Linked DNA regions of Homo sapiens: region 2 is linked to region 1. The links come from fine-mapping of genetic effects on gene expression. A gene starts in region 1. The other region holds a variant in brackets. All regions are shown on one strand. Distances are between the middles of the regions.

Evidence for each region.
Region 2: its variant is fine-mapped to the expression of LINC00847 in whole blood (TOPMed, PIP 0.93).

The regions. Positions count from the first base shown.
Region 1 is chr5:180,829,740-180,832,457 of GRCh38, forward strand. LINC00847 (long intergenic non-protein coding RNA 847) reads left to right here and starts at 1,218. Exons shown (of 3, transcript NR_045679.1): 1 at 1,218-1,490. HEIH (hepatocellular carcinoma up-regulated EZH2-associated long non-coding RNA) reads right to left here and starts at 1,879. Exons shown (of 1, transcript NR_045680.1): 1 at 215-1,879. It also overlaps a transcript of ZFP62 not described here. RefSeq lists silencers at 1,444-1,493, 1,854-1,983, 2,424-2,593.
Region 2 is chr5:180,805,182-180,808,189 of GRCh38, forward strand. It overlaps a transcript of MGAT1 not described here. Among named protein-coding and RNA genes, the nearest start is that of MGAT1, 3.9 kb to the left of the region's middle. The variant C/G (reference allele first, on the strand shown) is at 1,574.

The sequences.
Region 1 (2,718 bases):
ACTTAGCCAAAAGCACTGGTTATACCTCTATACCTCGGAGCCGACACTGAAAGCCCCGGCCATAGTCTTTCTGCCCCAAGGAAAGCCTGGGGTGGGGGTGGGTGATATTGTCAAGAGCCAGGCCCCAGCTCCTCATACACACAGCTCATTTGCTCTCCCTCCCAACCCCCACCTTCATACTTCTTCCACACGCATACCAAAGAAAATAAGAATCTCAAGGTTGGAAAATCCCACTTTACTTCAAGTGAAGTCACTGGGTTGTCCCCATGAAATATCTCCACAATGGGTGTGCTAGACCTTTACTCTCTGTGGCACCACCAAGACCCCCTCACCCTGCCAGAGCCCTCTGAAGTGTACTCAGAATGGAGGGGCTGGAAGTGGGGCCAGTGGTCCTGGTAGTCAGCCTCCCCTTCTGACACAAGAATTATCGTGGAACAGCTTGTGTGACCGATCAACTGGTCTCTCCATCTTTAAGCCATTGTCTTGTTGACTCTGTTACTGCAGAGTTTGGGGAGGTCTCATGGCTTCTCGCATCCTATTTCCTGAGCTTCCCTGAAGCCAACTTCTGGCCACTGGTATGTGATGCGAGCACAGTGCCTCCTCCTGCTCCTCCAGGAAGCTTCTGCTGATTGAACGCAGGCCAGATGGCGAGATCCGGAGCAACCTTCTTAGATCAAGGGAAGAAAGGGGCACAAGAGGGGAGTAGGTAACAAGATAAAAGGAGCTCCCTCCCTGATGACTACAGAGCCATCGTGGCAGCCCTGGGCCTCCATTTCAGACGTTCATCTTGCCTAAGCCACCACCATCAGGGTCTCAGTCAGTCATCATTCTCATTTACTCGGGTGGCTGGGTGAGGGCGGAATACTACCTTCCAGCTGTCTGAGATTAAGCCTAAGCCACCACCATCAGGGTCTCAGTCAGTCATCATTCTCATTTACTCGGGTGGCTGGGCGAGGGCGGAATACTACCTTCCAGCTGTCTGAGATTAAGCAGAACAGCAGCTAAAGCAGTAACAGCAGGTCTCCTTCAGCAGCTTGCCACAGGGAAGAGGGTCCCGCGTGAACCGAACTCAACTTCCACCTGCGCAGAGGTAGCTACCATTTGCGTAGAGGTAGCTGGGTCTTTAAGGTTAGAGGGAAGGCGCAGGGAGGGAGAGACGGCGGGTGGGGGTTGAACAAAGTGGAGATTCACAAAAGCAGACTAGGGCGGGCGACGTGATCAGATGACCTGTGCGGGCGGCAGCCTCCTGCCCTCCTCCCCTTCGTGCGCCGGCTGGAGCGAAGAGTTCTTTTGACAGCCGTGAGCTTCCCCGCCAGGAACTTACTGGGGCTGCATCACCCTAGAAACGTGGCTTTGGGCTGTGGAAACGCTGCCTCTGTGGAAGTCTCTCCTCGCGGGGGTGGACGGGTCGCTGCGCGCCCAGCGTTCTTCTGCGGTTCTCACAGCCCGCCGCCGCCGCCGCCTCGGGGACCTTTGCGGGGAGGCCTCAGGTCAGCGCCGCCCTTGCGATGGCGGGAGAGCAGAGCGGCCCCAGGGCCTCTGAGCTCCGGCCCCGGCACGTCCCGCCCTCTCCTCCGCTTGCGGGAGCCGGGGCGCCTCGGAGGGAAACCTTCCGGACACAGGCCGGGAGAAGAGGGGCCGTGGCGCCATCGCGCAGCTTCCTGGTTTCGGCCATGTTTTTTTTTTTTTGAGACGGAGTTTCGCTCTTTTTGCCCAGGCTGGAGGGCAATGGCGCCGTCTCGGCTCCCTGCAGCCGCCGCCTCCCGGGTTGAAGGGACTCTCCGGCCTCAGGCCGCGGTGTTCTTGTAAATTAGAACCGGCCTATGCGCCAAGCGCGGGTCTCGCGGCTGCGGAGAGAGGCCCAGCAGGGGGCGGGGACGCCGGGAGGCGGGGCCTGGCCGAGCTGCGCACACCCGGGTGGTTCTGGCTACGGGTACCCGGACCTGCCCAACGACCGTTCTCCATTCCCGACCTCCGCACCCTACCCGGTCCGCAGGGCACCTTCCTCCTCTCTCTCAGGCACGTCCTCGACCTCAGTTGCCACGTGCACATGCTGGTGCCTTCCAGGTCGGTCTTTCTCCACCAGACTCCACCTGGAACTTTCTTCCTTTTCGTCCTGTGCTGGCCTAACCCCTGCTCGGCCTCGGCCCTCAGCTGCCGGCTCTAACAAAGCCTCTGTCTTTCCCAGACCCCTGTGACCAGGTCAGGCTCTGCTCCCTGCGTTCCTCTCTCCTTGCTTCCCTCCTCCTCCCCTCCCCAGAATCGCTTGAACCTGGGAGGCAGACGTTGCAGTGAGCTGAGATCGCACCATTGCACTCCAGCCTGGGTGACAAGAGCGAGACTCCATCTCAAAACAAAAAACAAAAAACACAACTCTTGCTGGCTCCTTGATTTTAGCCCAGTGAGATTCACTTCTAATTTCTTTTTTTCTTTGAGACAGTCTGTTCTGTCACCCAGGCTGGAGTGCAGTGGCGTAATCATGGCTCACTGCAGCCTCAACCTTCCTGGACTCAAGTGAACCTTCCACCTCAGCCTCCCAGGTAGCCGGGACTACAGGGGTGCACCAGCATGCCTGGCTAATTTTTGCATTTTTTGTAGAGATGGGGTTTCACTATGTTGCCCAGGCTGGTCTGAAACTCCTGTGCCCCAGCAGTCCTCCTGCCTTGGTCTCCCAAAGTTCTGAGATTACAGGCATGAGCCACTGCGCCTGGGCTTCCA
Region 2 (3,008 bases), 24 kb before region 1:
TATGTGCAAAAGGAAAAAACAGGAGGATAAACAGTCACAAGATTAGACCAGATTATCCAGGAGGATAAACAGTCACAAGATTAGGCAGAGGAACAATACTCTCCCCTGCCCACTCCACCACTGACAAAAGAGAACTGAAAAGATGAAAAGGAAGTGAAAACTGTTCCAGGAAACTGCCCTCCCATAAACCATGCCCAAGATCCCTGACACTTTTTACAATTTGGAAAGAATTCATGCCCTTAAATTAAAACATATGTTGGCTTGAAAACATCAGTAAAAGTAAAAGCAGGCTGGGCGCAGTGGCTCACGCCTGTAATCCCAGCACTTTAGGAGACCAACGCAGGCGGATCACGAGGTCAGGAGTTTGAGACCAGCCTGGCCAACATAGTGAAACATCGTCTCTACTAAAAATACAAAAATTAGCCAAGTGTGGTGGCATGCACCTGTAGTCCCAGCTACTCGGGAGGCTGAGGCAGGAGAATTGCTTGAACCTGGGAAGCGGAGGTTGCAGTGAGCAGAGACCATGCCACTGCACTCCAGCCTGGGTGACAGAGTGAGATTCCATCTCAAAAAAAAAAAGTAAAAGCAAATTTTTTAAATCAGTGTTTTGTTTCCCTTCTCCCTGCCTCCTAATATCTCTGCTTGCCCCTCTCCCTCACCCCACAATGGAGACCCAGAAATTCATCTCATCCAGGTCAAAGAGGAAAGATTAACATAATAATCACTAAACAATGTCTGTGAAATGTAACTTTTGGTTAGCCACCTACAATTCTTTTTGGAATAAAGAAGGATATAAATAATTAATTGAGTTAAAATACACACACGGCCGGGCACCGTGGCTCATGCCTATAATCCCAGCACTTTGGGAAGCTAAGGCAGACAGATCACAAGGTCAGGAGATTGAGACCATCCTGGCCAACATGGTGAAACCTCATCTCTACTAAAATACAAAAAATTAGCCGGGCGTGGTGGCGTGTGCCTGTAGTCCCAGCTACTTGGGAGGCTGAGGCAGGGGAATAGCTTGAACCCAGGAGGTGGAGGTTTCAGTGAGCCGAGATCGCACCACTGCACTCCAGCCTGGCGACAGAGCAAGACTCTGTCTCAAAAAAAAAATGCACACACAGTCTGGTTAAGTCTATCACTGCTCCTGGCTAAGTAGCCTGACACCTGCTGAGTGCTATGCCTTGGCATCCTGGTGCCCATGTGAAAAAGCCAATGGTTGTCTTGAAGGGACTGTCTCATGGAAGGGTCAGGTGCAGGGCAGGAGGGTGGGAAGGTCAGGGAGAGGAATGCTTGCTCACTCTAAGGAGGAAACGTTCTACCAGAGAGGCTGTCTGGCAGGGCACAGAGCTTCTCTCCCTGGAGGTTTGCAGCAGAACCCAGATGGCCTGGTCAGGTCAGATGCTGTGGAAACAGCACAGCACTGGGAGGTGATTTCAGTGCCTACCGCTCTACCCTTAGGCAAACCCTTCCCACTCAGGGCTTCCGTAGCTTCCCCTCAAACTGGGAAAAGAATCCCTGCTCTGTTCTCCTCACAACAAAGTGGTGAGGGAAAACAGACAAAACAGATTGA[C/G]TGGATCACGTGATAGAAGCATTACGCAAATACGCAACTCCCTGGTACCTGGGATACCAGAGATGGCTGAGGAGGCACCGTGGCATCACGTATCCCCGAGGGATCACTGTGACCCCTGTGTCTAAGCAAAGACTGGCAACAGAAATTTGCTGGGTGAAGCTGGGGAAGGTGGTACACCCATCTTGAGACCCACACCTTATAAAGGAGCAGCCTGGCCTCAAAGGGGCTGCCCCAGGCACCAGACCAGAGGAGAAAGTACAGCTCGGGAGCAGCAGCTCCACCCAGGCCACTGCCCACCTCTCAAGCCGCTGGAGGGAGTGAGGAAAACTCCTGTGGCAAAAAAGGAAAGACTGGGGAAGGGGATGGAAGAAAAAAATTTAACATGGAAAGTAAGGCATAAGTACAGGATTTTCAGTTTGCAGATGACCTCACTGTCACCCATCCTCAAGGAACATGTGAGGCCTAGGTGTTACTGAGCTAGGGAGAGGCAGAGACATGCCAGAAGCCAGGCCTCCTGCCCTTTGCCCAGGCCACCATACCCTACTGTCTCTCAAAATTCCCAACACTGTGCTCTACCCCTCCTTTCTGCTGTGTGTTGTCCCTGGGAAAAGCAGGCATCTTGGCACAGGTAAATTGGAATTGAAGGAGGGAGCAGACAGGAAGTGAGAAGATAAAGACAAACAGGGCTGCTTTTATAGGGAATACAGCCTGAGAAAATACAAAGGGCGAAGAGATGTCTGGAAAAAAACGTCATCTTAAGGAGCGGGAGAGATAACTAGCATATGGCACAGGAAGGTAAAGACCACCACTCACTCCAAGAAAAGTGCCTAGCCAGACACCTGCCCTCAAGGCTTAAGCATCCTTCCACCCCCTCTTTAATCAGCTACCTCAAAGGGGCACACTGAAATTGGACTGGAGAGCCATAAGGGCCAATGCAGTATCTGCAAGACTCCTTCAATCCAAGTTCTCCTTGGATCTATTCACCTGTTCTACAACTTGATGATCCCAAGTACTGTTTACCAACAAGATGATGAAACACATTCAGGGGCAGGCTTTTCACTAAGGACATCTTCTTAGGCTGTTGCCAGCACACTATTTCAAGAAGAAAACAGAACTCCTGACTCAGAGTTGTTTCTGTGCTTTTAAGGCACGTAGAGCAACATCGATGTTATTGTTTCCTGTGTACACGGCCCTGGATACTTTTCAAAATCCTTGTTTCATTTGCTCCTCGTAACAACTTGTAAGGGACCTGGAAAGTCAGTTTTCCCCCATTTTGTAGGTGAAGAGAACATGGCCTGTGTAGGGTTGTACACTGACTCAAAAAGTCAAAGCTAGAACACAAGTACTCCTTCCTGACCCCCAAACCTGTGTTCTGTTCCTCTGCTCTTTTCCCGAGCTTTCATGGGCTAAGCTCCCCTTATAGAAGTAGGAAGGG